Linked DNA regions of Homo sapiens. The protein of the gene in region 2 purifies or fractionates together with the protein of the main gene of each other region. This does not show direct contact. Each region holds a gene or a part of one and is shown on either strand. Other genes may lie near its edges.

What was found.
Region 1: the proteins of ZNF691 (region 2) and ZMYM1 purify together in Homo sapiens (affinity purification with mass spectrometry; one large-scale study listed by BioGRID and IntAct). This does not show direct contact.
Region 3: the proteins of ZNF691 (region 2) and FPGT purify together in Homo sapiens (affinity purification with mass spectrometry; one large-scale study listed by BioGRID and IntAct). This does not show direct contact.
Region 4: the proteins of ZNF691 (region 2) and NARF purify together in Homo sapiens (affinity purification with mass spectrometry; one large-scale study listed by BioGRID and IntAct). This does not show direct contact.

Annotation. Positions count from the first base shown.
Region 1 is NC_000001.11:35,082,374-35,085,941, reverse strand, and holds part of ZMYM1 (zinc finger MYM-type protein 1), read right to left. Parts: intron 1-3,568.
Region 2 is NC_000001.11:42,845,122-42,849,414, reverse strand, and holds the start of ZNF691 (zinc finger protein 691), read right to left. Parts: upstream 2,803-4,293; 5' UTR 2,758-2,802; exon of another isoform or gene 125-2,757; 5' UTR 74-124; coding exon of another isoform or gene 2-73; exon of another isoform or gene 1-1. UniProt on the Homo sapiens protein: May be involved in transcriptional regulation.
Region 3 is NC_000001.11:74,201,202-74,204,769, forward strand, and holds part of FPGT (fucose-1-phosphate guanylyltransferase), read left to right. Parts: intron 1-116; coding exon 117-209; intron 210-3,189; coding exon 3,190-3,568. Other genes in the region: FPGT-TNNI3K fusion protein, read left to right, coding at 117-209. UniProt on the Homo sapiens protein: Catalyzes the formation of GDP-L-fucose from GTP and L-fucose-1-phosphate. Functions as a salvage pathway to reutilize L-fucose arising from the turnover of glycoproteins and glycolipids.
Region 4 is NC_000017.11:82,486,232-82,489,799, forward strand, and holds part of NARF (nuclear prelamin A recognition factor), read left to right. Parts: intron 1-1,684; coding exon 1,685-1,926; 3' UTR 1,927-3,568.

The DNA.
Region 1 (3,568 bases), 7.8 Mb from region 2:
TTTATTCCACGATGTGTTAGCTTAATTTATAACTTTTAAATATTTAGACACAGAGTATGTGGGCTTCCATTCATACTCTTAGCAAGGACCCCACAAATGCTAGGGGCCAGTGTGAACCTAGCACTCCAACCACAAGTACATTTCAAAACTAGGCTGGGAATGAGGGGTACAGAATACTGATTTAACAACAATAATTCCCTATTAGAGCTAGGTGGCTGGCATGTGCCACACCAAAGGCAAGAAAGGGCAGGCCCAAGAGAGCTCTAGGAATGACTGTTCAAGGAAGGAGGCTATTGTCCCTGAAGCTGGAATGTAGTCATGGAGGTGGTTTCAGGGTCAGGAAAGGACAGCTGCAGCCAAAGGGAGATCTACAACAACCACAGGAGAAAACACTATCCTCCTCTTTGGGCCAGAGGGAAAGGGAGACAGATGTCAAGGCAAAGAATCAGCTGCACCTTAACCTCCTCACTTTACTTGTCCTCATACTGCTTTCCTTCCTGCCAAAGTCATTTCTGCCTAATCAGATCCTATGCAGTTTGGAAACCAACTGAGCTCCAGATTTTAACAGACTAGCATGAAGTAAAAATAATATGGGGGCCGGGCGCGGTGGCTCACGCCTGTAATCCCAGCACTTTAGGAGGCCGAGGCGGGTGGATCACAAGGTCAGGAGATCGAGATCATCCTGGCTAACACGGTGAAACCCTGTCTCTACTAAAAATACAAAAAATTAGCCAGGCGTGGTAGTGGGCACCTGTAGTCCCAGCTACTTCGGAGGCTGAGGCAGGAGAAGGGCGTGAACCCAGGAGGCGGAGCTTGCAGTGAGCTGAGACAGTGCCACTGCACTCCAGCCTGGGCGACAGAGCGAGACTCTGTCTCCAAAAAAAAACCAAACCAAAACAAAACAAAAAACGGATAAATCCAGGCATAACAGAGTAGCCTTTAGCATACTAAATCCTTTCACTGGAATTAATTACAAAATTTAACAGACTTTACTGGTAAGGGGACTTTCCATGACAAAATAGTGGAAACCCAAGCAGAAAACAGCAGGAGACAGTTAGAAGTACTGGATTCTAAAGTAGCTGGAACTCAAGAGGCACAATCTGGGAGAGGAGGGAACTACAGAAAAATAATATGCATAGAAATCTCCCCTCCTCCAAGTCATTGGCGGACTCCTAAACTGCACATTTACAGAGTGAGACTTCAAAAACTTAACAGAACACAGCAGTTAAACGTCAAAGAGCTAATAAGATTATAGCAGCTATGCTGAGTTGAGAGTTGAAATTTAAGACCAGCAAGATAGAGGGGTTTTGGTAAAGACCTGGATTTCGGGTTGAGACTCAAGGAGGGCCTTGCCCTAGGAGTAATGGCTATGCCCCAGGAGGAAAAGAGACCACTTCCAAGAAGAAAGGACAAACTGAAATAGACCAGTCTTAACAAGACCTATAATCAACCCTCAACAGGATCAATGTCATCTGCTACTACTATCCACGTGCCTAATGGCAACCTTAGTCTGCTTTGAAGGAAGTACATCCGGATGCTAATAATGTTCATCCAAAATTTCCAGAATCCAGTAATAATTTATGGACTAAGAGGAATTTTTAAAATCCCAAAACTGACTGGAAAAAAATGGCAATAGAAACAAACCCACAGGTGACTCAGATATTGTTCTTGTCAGGCAAGGACTTGGTTATGTTTGAGAAAACAGAGGAAAGATGGAGAAGTTCTGTAGTGACCTGGCATCCATCAAAAAAAAAAAAAAAAGTTAAATGGAAAATCTAGAATTGGAAAACACAGTGAGGAAGTTAAGAATTCAATCGATGAATATCAAATTAGTGAAGAAGACAAGCTAGAAGGTACACTGATGCACAGAGATAAAAGGATGGAAAATTGAAATAATGTGCCATGTGGGATTCCTATTCAGTTCTAGAATAAGAATCTAGAATAATGTGCCACGTGGGATCTCTTATTCAGTTCTAGGATAAGAGAAAATAGACAATGCAAAAGAAGCAGTATTTGAAAGAAAATACCAGGCAAGGTGGCTCACGCCTATAATCCCAGAACTCTGGGAAGCCAAGGCAGGAGTTTGAGCCCAGGAGTTCGAGACCAGCCTGGGTGACATAGTGAGACCCTCATCTCTACAAAGAAATTAGAAAAATTAGCTGGGCATGGTGGTGGATGCCTGTAGTACAGGCTATGTGGGAGGCTGAGGCTGGAGGATCACCTGAGCCCAGGAAAGAGTTCCAGGTTACAGTGAGCTATGATCGCACCACTGCACACCAACCTAGGTGACAGACTGAGACACTGTCTCGAAAAAAAACAAAAACAAAAAATACCTACAATTTTTTAGGACAATTTCCTAAAACTGAAGAAAAACATCAAACCACATGAATTCAAGCTCTGTGAATCACAAATAAGATATAAAGAAAAACGCGAGTAGGCATGTCATAGTTACACTGGTGAAAACCAAAAAGAAAATCTTAAAAGCACTAAGGTTGGGTGTGGTGATTCACACTTGCAATTTGAACATGTCGGGAGGTAGAGGACAGAGGACTGCTTAGCCCAGGAGTTCGAGGCCACCCCCTGGCAGCATAGTGAGACCCCCATCTCTAAAAACAATTAAAAGATTAGCTGGGTATGATGGTATGCATCTGGAGTCCCAGCTACTCGGGAGGCCGAGGTGGTAAGACTGCTTAAGCCGGGAGGGTGAGGCTACAGTGAGCTGTGATCAAGCCACTGCACACCAGTCTGGGGGACAGTGAGACCCTGTCTTAAAAAAAAAAAAGAAAAGAAACAATAAAACCCCAGAAGCCAATGTAATATCTTTAAAGTGCTGGGGAAAAATCTACTTAAAATTCTATATTCAGTAAAAATATCCTTCAAGATTAAGAGCAAAATAAAGACATTTTCAGACAAATGAAAACACTGTAGAAATGCTACAGGAAATTCTTTTTTTATTTTTGGAGACAGAGTTTTACTCTTGCTGCCCAGGCTGGAGTGCAATGGCACAATCTCAGGTCACTGCAACCTCCACCTCCCGGGTTCAAGTGATTCTCCTGCCTCAGCCTCCTGAGTAGCTAGGATTACAGGCATGCACTACCACTCCTGGCTAATTTTTTGTATTATTAGTAGAGACGGGGTTTCACCATGTTGGCCAGGCTGGTCTGGAACTCCTGACCCCAGGTGATCCACCCGCCTCAGCCTTCCAAAGTGCTGGGATTACAGGGGTGAGCCACCACGCCCGGCCACTAAAGGAAATTCTTTAAGCTAAAGTAAAATAGTAGATGGGAATTTAGCATAAAAGTTGGAAAGCAGGCCAGGCGTGGTGGCTCACGCCTGTAATCCCAACACTTTAGGAGGCTGAGGCAGGCGGATCACTTGAGGTCAGGAGTTCGTGACCAGCCTGGCCAACATGGTGAAACCCCATCTCTACCAAAAATACAAAAATTAGCTGGGTATGGTGGTGCACGCCTGTAATCCCAGCTACTCGGGAAGCTGAGGCAGGAGAACTGCATGAACCCAGGAGGTGGAGGTTGCAGTGAGCCCAGATCATGCCACTGCACTCCAGCCT
Region 2 (4,293 bases):
CCCACACTACAAGACTTTGTATTAGAAAAAAATGCCTGTAATACTCAGCAGAGTGTGTGACACATGCTGTCATTCAGCAAATGGCAGCTGCTGTTACAACTGTTGAAGACACTACGTCCAGGCCCTGTGAAGAATACAAGAAAAAGATCTTTTAAATGATCTCATTAAGAAAAAACTTTTAACTTAAAAATAGCATAAAACTGTATATAACCTTCTAAAATGTGAAATACAGACAGAACCTCAACTCTTTAAGAACCAGAGGTTGACAAGCTTTTTCTGTAAAGGGCCAGATAATATTTAGTAAATATTTATGGCCATGGGATATCTGCTGTAACTATTCAATTCTGCCACTGTATCATGAATCATGAAAGCAGCCATAGACAAGACATAAAGGAATGTGTGGCTGTGCTCTAATAAAACTTTATTTAAAGCAACAGGAGGTGAGCTGTGGTTTGCCAATCCCTGTTAGTGTTCCTTGAAGAATTTAGATAAGAATATGAAAAATAATTGGTTTGCTTTACTTCCAAAAATGCAAGTAAACATGAGAAACTATTCCTTGATACTTAGACACTGTTTCCTGACCATCCTTTAAAAAATTAAAATCACTCCCACACTCCCAGTCCTCCTGCCCCATAGCACATCTTACCTTCTGACATTCTCTTTATGTCTATTATTTATTGTCTGCTTCCCTAAAACATAAGTTCCATGAGAGCTGGTGTCTTTGTTGTTTTTTTGTTTTTTTTTTAATTTACCAATGTAACCAAAACTCCTAGAGTAGTGGCAGCCATATACAGTAGATCCTTCATAAGTATTTGTTGAATGAGTTGAATAAAACACCAGCTCTGTCTTCATGGGACACAAGTAACCATGAACTGTCTCACCCACTTTTCCTCAGCAATCTCCTGATTCCTGCCTACTTTCTCCTTTATGCAGTCACAGAATCTTGTGCTTGGCTTATAGTGGTTTGCAACTACTAGTAGAACATGTCTGTTTCTATTAGTAGTTTATAAGCAACTTGAGGAAAGGGACTGGGTCATATTAGTAATCTCCTTCTGCAGCATAAAGCTGGGTGCTCAAATGTCTTTTGAATGTATAAGTGACAGGATGTGATCTTAATTCACGCCACCATCCCATCCCCCACCCCCTGCCCTGCTCCCATCTGACCTACAGCTACAGTATCTCTACGCAATGAGCTATTCAGCCTCCACTCACTTCCGAAACTGCTATTCTGAGAACCTATAATTTACCAAGTTCCAGCTCTACCCGGGGCTGGATGCTAGGTCAATGTAAGAGCAAAAGGATTTAGGATTATGATTACCACTCAGTTTGTGATACAGTGTACTGAAACAGACCGTGAACTCCAGAAATTGTCATACAATGCAGAAGGTTAAGTTCAGGGGACAGGGGCAGGAACTGTGCCTTAGTCACCTTTGTACCCACTCCTCAGTGTCTAACACAGCACCTGGCACATTATTAACATTTTTTTAAAGCTCGAATCAAGTGCTAAGCTGTGGACTAAGGACCATATATGAATCATCTAATTTCACTTCACATCATCCTTATTTTAGAGATGAGAAAGCTGAGGCTCAGAGAAATTAAGTATCTTGCCCAAGGGCACACAGCAAGTAAGTGGCAGAACTGGGGCCTATGCCCATCACTTCAAAGTCAGTGCTTTTAACCATTATACTATTACTGAAGGAAAAAAGGAGAGAAGACGGGAAGGAAGGAAATAAAAACAGTACCACTGAAGTTCACATGATACAGATGTATCTCCCTGATGAAATCAGGGCTGAGAAGTTTCAAGGAGGAGTAGGTATTTGACCTAAGGTTTGCAGGATGGGTAAGACTGGGACTTGCAGAGATAAAGAGGCAACTACCTACTGAGAAGACAGTGCAGCTGAAGTACAGAGGCACTTTCATATCACACTGCAGAGATCTGGGGGGAAAAGGGGTCTATTGGGCTTTGTCTTCCTGGTGGCTCAGCTGCACAGAGAGAAGCAACGGTGGAAGGGGCTGAGAAGTGGAGGAGGGGCCAGGTCTAAGAAGTTAAGAGCCAAGAAGATGGGGCTAGTGATCACAGATGATGAAGGTGAAGCGCCTAGGTTAAAGGCAAGGGGCCAAGCCATAGTGCGGTATGGAGGTCCGAAGTTACAGGTCTTTGGGGCCAAGTCAAGGGCTGCAGGGAGGAAGAGGAGAGAGGAGCTATGAAAGACCAAGAGCAAGGTGCTAACAGGGTAATTGTACAGGGAAGCTAGATAACGGGTCAGAGATACAGGAGGACCAAGGAAGTCAGAGGGTCGCAGGAGACGGTCAGGGAAGAGGAAGCAAAGGCTGCCAGAAGTGTCACAGGCCAGGGCCCAAGAGCTGAGTTGTGTGTTGCGGGGCGGGGAGAAGCCAATGGCGGAGGTCCAAGGGTACAAGAGCTGGTTTCAGAGATTGCCGGCGGGCTTGGGGCCAGAGAGGTGGGAGAGGAGGAGGGGCTGATCCTAAACGTATGGTCAGCGGCAGGAAGGCTGTATACTCAAACCCAACAGAAGGGCCGGGGAATGGGTTGGGGACAGCCACCTGGCTGCGTGGGCCGGGGGCCAGGGCGAGGGTCGCGGCGGAGGGACCACAAGGCCCCTTGGCTTCCCACTCGGTCCAGGGAGCAAAGCAGCAGCATCCAGATCCTCGGTGAGAGGGAAGTGGCCGTGTACAGAGTTTCCCGCGAAGTCGTGTCCGCCTCCCCCCGCGACCTCGGGCCCAACCCGGACCCACCTCGCTCCCGCCGCTCGATCAGGGACAGCGCCGCCTCTGTAGGCGAGGGAAGGAGCTGGAGCCGGAGCCGGAACCCAGGAAGGATCCGCCCTACTACTCCAGGATTGGTTTCTTGGGATAATTCTTTATTTCCATTGGCTACCATGACTGCCACAACGCAAGCGACCTGGCAGGACCACCAATAAGCTTTGACCGCTGGCGTGGCATGCTGGGAGTTGTAGTCCTAAGGAAGCGCGTAGACTCAGAGAAAACTTGCGAAGTTTAGGATGGAGCTGAAGAGACTGGGTTCCGTCCTACGGTGGGATTTCTTTCCGTGCTCGCGCGTTCAGCCCCAAGTCTCAGGGCCACTCGTCTGGGAAGTTGTAGAATCTGTATAGCCAACCTACACAACCTCCAAGGGGGCAAGTACTCAAATTTCCTTCTTTACTTTGAGTTGGTAATCCTTGACCGTCCTGTAGACGTCCAACGAAGCCTAGAGTCTGGCACCTCACTCAAGGTTTATAACTTAAAATCAAAGGAGGGTAGAGCTGGAAGGGAGTTTAAAGATAAAATAACCCAATCTCCTTATCGGAGAAGCTAAAAGTACCCTGTTCAAGGATCAACCTCCAGGTCTTCCAGCCCCCCTGAGCAGGGATTTTCCCGGGTTCCGCGTGCATCCCTAATTAAGCCTGACACGTGTTCGTCAATCCAGACACAACAAGATCACCAAAGTATCCAGGACTAGGTCTTTTTTTTCAGGTTTTATTTTTTAAAATAATAAAAGGCTAATGAAATACGTAAACTACAGGCTTCTCGTATCTGCACAATGTTTCAGTGCAAAGAACAAGGAGCATTGCCTTCAGAGCTAGATAAACCAAGTATAAAACTCTGGCTCTACCACCTAGCCATTTGGAGTACCAACTCCCTCCCCCATAAAATCCCTGGCAGAATTACTGTGAGGATATTATATATACATACATATATTCTCATGCATGTGTATGTGTATACATATATACATATATATGTATGTATGTTTTATATAGTTGTAAGGTTATAATACATACATATATTGAGGTTATTTCTTGATGACATTAATATTCAAATCAGTAGACTGATATGTATGTACATATATACATGTATAATACACATACATGTGTATATACATATACTAATGTATACATGTGTATATACATGCATACATGTGTGAATATGTATTATACATACATATGTATATATGTGTATACATATACACGTGCATACATGCTAAATACATATACATATATATACACCTATGTAGTACAGATATGTATATACACATACATGTATACATGTGTATATGTGTATGTATGCATATGTGTGTGTATATTATATGTATATTCATGTATGTATGTGTATATGTATGCATGTATTCTGCCTCCACAAGCTGACAATGTGAGTTAGTTTTAAGATTGGGATATTCAGGAATGCATGTTTGGAACTGAATATGGTTGAGTGAAATATGTGTGCCTTATGAACACTATTTGTTTATAAATTGATAAAATAAAATACTAGAGAGCA
Region 3 (3,568 bases), about 31 Mb from region 2:
TACTTATTCCTGAAAGGCAAATCCTTAAGGTTATATAACACCTAAATTTACTGTCATGACAAAGTTTTAGTAGGTTTCTATTAAATAAATTGTGCTTTTTTAACTTTGTTTTTAAGGAAATGGAGGATCAACACTTTGTGCCCTTCAATGTTTGGAAAAGCTATATGGAGATAAATGGAATTCTTTTACCATCTTATTAATTCACTCTGGTAATGTTATACTTTACTAATTTACATTTTCTTTTTAGTCTTCCACCTTTAATACTTTAGAGACTTTTTTCTTTCTTGCAAACACTTTCCTTCTTTTTTAAAAGAATCTTTGAAGTTATTCTGCTTTGAAAACAAATATTTTATGATTTTCATGACTTTTTTTAGGTTGTAAGTAGTATAGTGATTTTCACAAATTTTACTCGTAAAATTGTAGATCACGTATATCGTCAGTCTTTTATGAATATTGTTTTGTTTTGGGTATGTATATAGAAAATTATTTTCCTAAGACAACTCATTCAAATATGAATAGTTCTCGGGAATACTTTAATGGGGATTTTTCTTTTAATTTTAATTTGTATTTTAAGTTCCAGGGTCCATGTGCAGGTTTGTTACATAGGTAAACGTGTGCCATGGTTGGTTGCTGCACCTGTCAACCCATCACCTAGGTATTAAGCCAGCATGCATTAGCTATTTTTCCTAACACTCTTTCTCCCTTAATGGGGATTCTTGCTTTGAGGGAAGGGTGGTTTAACACTGTCATTACTAGACTTTTGCCAGTACTTTTTATCTTGCATTTTTGTGTGATTATTGATAGCCAGAGGCCACAATGCTTAAAAATAAAAGGAAAATGTGACAAGATACAGAGTGGACAAGTAAATATATAAAAGAGAAATCACACACACAAAATAAGACATTTTAAAACAGAAAAGTAGGAAGGACATGGTCTCAGAATGAAGAATAGCTTTTTAAATTGAATACATTTAGTTGTGTGAAAATTTTGGTTACATGAAAACCTTTGTTGTTTTTCTATGTATGTTAAGGGGCTAATGAAAACTGTCATGAACTGACACCAGTCCAGGGACAGGTATTTTAGAATTATTCATCTACATGGCTTCCAAGGCACTTTTTCATTCTTATGATTTACATACAAAACAATGATTCTTTGTAAAGATGATGTCAAAGTAAAGCATCCAAGTTCTGGTTTGAAGCCTAAAAATGTGTAAAACAATCTAATTTACAATTTTATTTAAGAAAATAATTATTATCAGTTTAGTAAAAATTAAATTAGATACCAGGAAATGCATAGTTAGATAATTTTTTTATTTTTATTTTTTGGAAATAGATAATTCTTAGTGCTAAACTTGACTATTGGCTGCTCTTTGAAAAAAGAAAAAAACAGAAACTTATTAGCTCTCTTTTGTTGAACAATGTACTGTGTGCTGCCAAGTGCTTTACAGGTATTATTGATCTTCAGTAATAAATTAACCTTAGCTTACTATAACATTTTTACTTTATAAACTTCTTAATTTTTTTGACTCTCTTGTAATAACATTCAGCTTAAAACACAAACACTGTACAGCTGTACAAAAATATTTTCTTTATATTGTTAGGGTTTATTTTGTTGTTTTTATTTTTACTTTTTAAATATTTTGGTTAGAAATGAAGACACAAACATATTAGCTTAGGCCTACACTGGGTCAGGATCATCAGTATCACTACCTCTATAGTCCTACTAAAGTTCAGGAGCTGTCATCTCCTATGATAACAATGCTGCCTTCTGAAAGACCTCCTGAAGGACCTGCCTGAGGCCATTTTATGCTTAACTTTTTTTTGTATGTATCATATGAATTTATTCTAAAATAACAATGAAAAGTATAGTATAGTAAATACATAAACCAGTAAAATAGTCATTTATTACCAATTATTATATACTATATACATAATTGTATGTTCTGTAGTTTAGTAAACTGGCAGCACAGCAGGTTTGTTTATACCAGCATCACCACTTGAGTGGTGCATCGTGCTAGGACTTTACAATGGCTCCAACATCACTAGGTGATAGGAATTTTTCAGTTCCATTATGATCTTATGGGACAACCTATGTATATGCTGTCCATAATTGAGCGAAATGTTGTAAAGAAGCAAGTATTTTAGCATTAGTATATTAGTTTTCTATAACTTTTATTTTCTGTGAAGTAGATTTTTTTTTTTTTTTGAGATGGAGTCTGGCTCTGTCGCCCAGGCTGGAGTGCAGTGGCACGATCTCCGCTCACTGCTGCAAGCTTCGCCTCCCGGGTTCACGCCATTTTCCTGCCTCAGCCTCCAGAGTAGCTGGGACCACAGGCGCCCGCCACCACGCCCAGCTAATTTTTTGTATTTTTAGTAGAGATGGGGTTTCACCGTGTTAGCCAGGATGGTCTGGATCTCCTGACCTCGTGATCTGCCTGCCTCGGCCTCCCAAAGTGTTGGTATTACAGGCTTGAGCCACCGCGCCTGGCCTTCTGTGAAGTAGATTCTTAATTAGAAGTCTAAACATGGTTGAAATTTGTTGTTTAAAATGTAGATACAGGCTGGGTGTGGTGGCTCACGCCTGTAATCCCAGCACTTTGGGAGGCCGAGTTGGGTGAATCACCTGAGGTCAGGAGTTTGAGACCAGCCTGGCCAACATGGTGAAACTTCGTCTCTACTAAAAATACAAAAATTAGCCAGGCGTGGTGGCAGGTGCCTGTAATCCCAGCTACTCGGGAGGCTGAGGCAGGAGAATCGCTTGAACCTGGGACACGGAGGTTGTGGTGAGCCAAGATCGCACGTCACTGCACTCCAGCCTGGGTGACAGTAAGACTTCATCTCAAAAAAAAAAAAACAAATGTAGATGCAACATCATGTTTTGGGCCGTGGTCCTTCTTATTTGTTATACATGTAATTCAAAACATTTCACAGATTCTACAGTATATTTAAATTTTTTCCTGACCTACAGTTTTTAAAATTGTCTTATATCAAATGGCAACAAGAAAATTTCTCTTCGAATTTTTAATTTGGATTTCATTATTCTTTCCTGATTTGCAGTAACAAGTGGCATATATTAAATATCGTTAAATATATTTTGATTTGTAACTTATGGGTTATAAAACCCTGGGGTTTTGAAAATTTTATAAATAATACTGCATTTTTAAATGGTTATTTCGTTTTAATTTTATAGGTGGCTACAGTCAACGACTTCCAAATGCAAGTGCTCTGGGAAAAATTTTCACTGCTTTACCTCTTGGTAACCCCATTTATCAGATGCTAGAATTAAAACTAGCCATGTACATTGATTTCCCCTTAAATATGAATCCTGGAATTCTGGTTACCTGTGCAGATGATATTGAACTTTATAGTATTGGAGAATTTGAGTTTATTAGGTTTGACAAACCTGGCTTTACTGCTTTAGCTCATCCTTCTAGTTTGACGATAGGTACCACACATGGAGTATTTGTCTTAGATCCTTTTGATGATTTAAAACATAGAGACCTTGAATACAGGTCTTGCCATCGTTTCCTTCATAAGCCCAGCATAGAAAAGATGTATCAGTTTAATGC
Region 4 (3,568 bases), on a different chromosome or scaffold from region 2:
GGACTTGCTGAGGGTGTGTCAGGGAAGAAGGGGACCCTCTGCCCCTGACCCATGGTGGTCCATCTGCGCCCCTGGTGGGGAACTGAGGACCTTTGTGCCATTGTGAGTCGGGGGGGGCACCACGAGGGACTCGAGTGGAAATGCCGGGTGCAGGTCAGTTGGAGGAGCGGCTCCACTGATGTTAGACAAGTGGGACAAGGTGTGAAGCCACAGGATGGGAGGGGCCCTTGGGCAGGGCACAGACAAGGGTGTGTCCTTCAACACAAAGGATCTCGTAGAGGAGGGGAGGCCTCAGCCAGCACTGACAAGAGGAGGGTGAGGGCAGAGAGGGGAGCCTGTGGCCTTGGAGGCCTCACTGAGCATTCCAGGGGCACGGAAGGGTCAGTCCCACAGCTGGGCTGAGGAGCAGCCGGGAGGTGGGCCGTGAAGCAGGGCCTCTGGGAGGGCCTCTGTGTGCAAGCGGGTGGAGCTGGGGCCTGAGGAAGGAGAAGGTGCAAGCCCAGCCCCCTGGGAAAGTGGAGGTTGGAGACCAGCTGGGGTGCCACCCTGGAACCCATGGGGAGTGAGGTTTAACCAGGGAAATTTGCTCCAGATTGTTTTAAATGAACTCTTACACTACTAAGAGTGACATCATCTAACACGTTGGAGAGTAAGTAGCATTAATAGATAGGAGACACATTTTTACTCAGGCCAGTGTTGGGTGTGTGGGCTCATGGCTGGGCTCACAGCTTAGCTGCCTCTGGTGCAGCCTCCAGGCAGGGCCCAGCACACTAACACGTGTGGTGCAGGCAGGAGTGGTTTAACTGCTTGTTCACAATTCCTGTGCTATCCTGGTTTTGCCAAATTCCAAGAGAAGTTGGAAATCGGGATTTGCATATGAAGCCACCCAGTTCTAAAAGGTTGGCAACTTAGGTTTTAGGTAAAACCATTTTATGGGTGATGTAAATGGGTAAGAATGAGAGGCACACGGGTCCAGGCACGGTGGCTCACGCCTGTAATCCCAGCACTTTGGGAGGCCGAGGTGGTCGGATTACCTGAGGTCAGGAGTTTGAGACCAGCCTGGCCAACATGGTAAAACCCTGTCTCTACTAAAAATACAAAAATTAGCCGGGCGTGGTGGCACACACCTGTAACCCCAGGTACTTGGGAGACTGAGGTGGGAGAATCGCTTGAGCCCAGGAGATGGAGGTTGCAGTGAGCCGAGATTAGGCCACTGCACTCCAGCCTGACCAATGGAGAGAGACTCTGTCTCGAAAAAAAAAAAAAAGAAGAATGAGAGGCACACGGGGCTGTGAGTCTGGGATCAGTGTCCCTGACAGCCTTGAGGAAGACCCTGGCCTGTTCAGCCAGCCCTAGCCTTAGGCCACACAACATTCCACGTCCCCTTTATTCCTCTCCTGCTTCCAACTCTTCCCTGTGAGGCAAAACTTCCTTAAGACTATCCCGGCTGGGTGCGGTGGCTCACGCCAGTGGTCCCAGCTCGAAGTAGGATTGCCGCTTGAAGCCAGGAGTTCAAGACCAGCCTGAGCAACATAGCAACACCCGCCCCTCCCGCCCAATCTCTACAAAAAATTTAAAAATCAGCCGGGCAAGGTGGTGTGTGTCTGTAGTTCTAGCTGCTCAGGAAGCTAAGGCAGAAAGATCGCCTGAGCCCAGGATAAACTTACCTGTGTTTATCTTTCAGGATGCTTAAATGGCAGAGGCCAAGCCCAGACTCCAGACGGACATGCGGATAAGGCCCTGCTGCGGCAGATGGAAGGCATTTACGCTGACATCCCTGTGCGGCGTCCGGAGTCCAGTGCACACGTGCAGGAGCTGTACCAGGAGTGGCTGGAGGGGATCAACTCCCCCAAGGCCCGAGAGGTGCTGCATACCACGTACCAGAGCCAGGAGCGTGGCACACACAGCCTGGACATCAAGTGGTGAAGTCAGGCCAGGGCCTTCCAGCTGCTCTTGGGGCCAGAGCCAAGAGCCTCTCAGTAGAGGGAGGGGCTGCCCTGAGTGGAGTATTAAAGACACTTAAGAAAACCGCTCAATGGATTACTTTGGTTTCTCCGAGTTCCCTGCTACCCCGTTTATTGGAGGCCCCTCAGGCAGTTTCATGTGGTGCTATCTTCATAATAGGTGTGGGATTGGAACTTTTTTTTTCTTTTTTTTTTTTTGAGACGGAGTCTCACTCTGTCACCCAGGCTGGAGTGCAATGGCGCAATCTCAGCTCACTGCAACCTCTGCCTCCCGGGTTCAAGCGATTCTCTTGCCCCAGCCTCCCGAGTAGCTGGGACTAACGCGCACACCACCATGCCCAGCTAATTTTTGTATTTTTAGTAGAGATGGGGTTTCACTATGTTGGCCAGGCTGGTATTGAATTCCTGACCTCCTGATCCACCCGCCTTGGCCTCCCAAAGTGCCAGGACTGCAGGCATGAGCCACCGTGCCTGGCAGATTGGAACGTTTTAACATGAGAGGAGCACTTCCCCAATTTATCCCTTCATCCTAAGATTGTGAAAAAGTCCCAAAGAGTGGGAATGGAGACAGACTACTGTATTTTAGGTTTAAAAAGAAAAATCCAGAAAGTGTCCTGTGAAGAGCTAGGACCCCCAGAGGTTCTAATGCACATGACTTGAAGGTGATTTGATGTGGGAGTGAGGGCAGAGGGTGGGGTGGCTGTGCCTGTGGACTCCTGTGGCCCTGGGGTTGTTAGGGCAGGCAGTCCACAGTCCCAGATCCCTGCCCATTTTGGCTCTTTCTTTTACCCACTCATATTTTCCTTGAAAATGTTTTTGCCAGAACATTAATAACTGTCAGCCTTTTAGAATCAGGAGACTTACGTACAAATCTGGATTTTCAGCTTTTCTTAGAAAAACTGTAGTTTCTGACAACAGTAGGCCCCATTCCTCACAGCCAGTCACCACCCTCCTCCCATTCCTCACAGCCAGTCACCACCCTCCTGGACCATACTCGGCCCTGGGCCATTCCTCACAGCCAGTCACCACCCTCCTCCCATTCCTCACAGCCAGTCACCACCCTCCTGGACCACACTCGGCCCTGGGCCATTCCTCACAGCCAGTCACCACCCTCCTGGACCATACTCAGGGCCCTGGAGGCCTGGCAACCCAGGCCCCAACTCAAACTTGTACATTCAGTCTTTCAGTCGGACTCGCACTGGGGCAAGGGTGACAGACACGAGAATGGAAAATTGAGAAGGCTGCCCGCACCAGCTGGGTGGGTGCAGGGGGCCCCAGCTCATCATCAGCACTGTCGTGGGGTGGGAGTCGGGGGTAAAGGTTCCGTCTGACCCTGAGGGGTTGAGGATATTCAGGTGGTCCAGCCTCCCGCAGAAGACTTCCCTGTCACCCTTGGCAGACAGGTTTCTTCTCACACGGCCCTGGCCCATCCACTCGCCATGAAGCCCTCTGTGCTCAGGGTGATGGAGCCCCCTCCATTCTGGCACTGCACTGTGGGCATGAGCTTGCCTTAAAAAGAAAGGAGAGGCCAGGCACGGTGGCTCGTGCCCTATAATCCCAGCACACTGGGAGGCCAAGGTGGGAGGATTGCTGGAGTCCAGGAG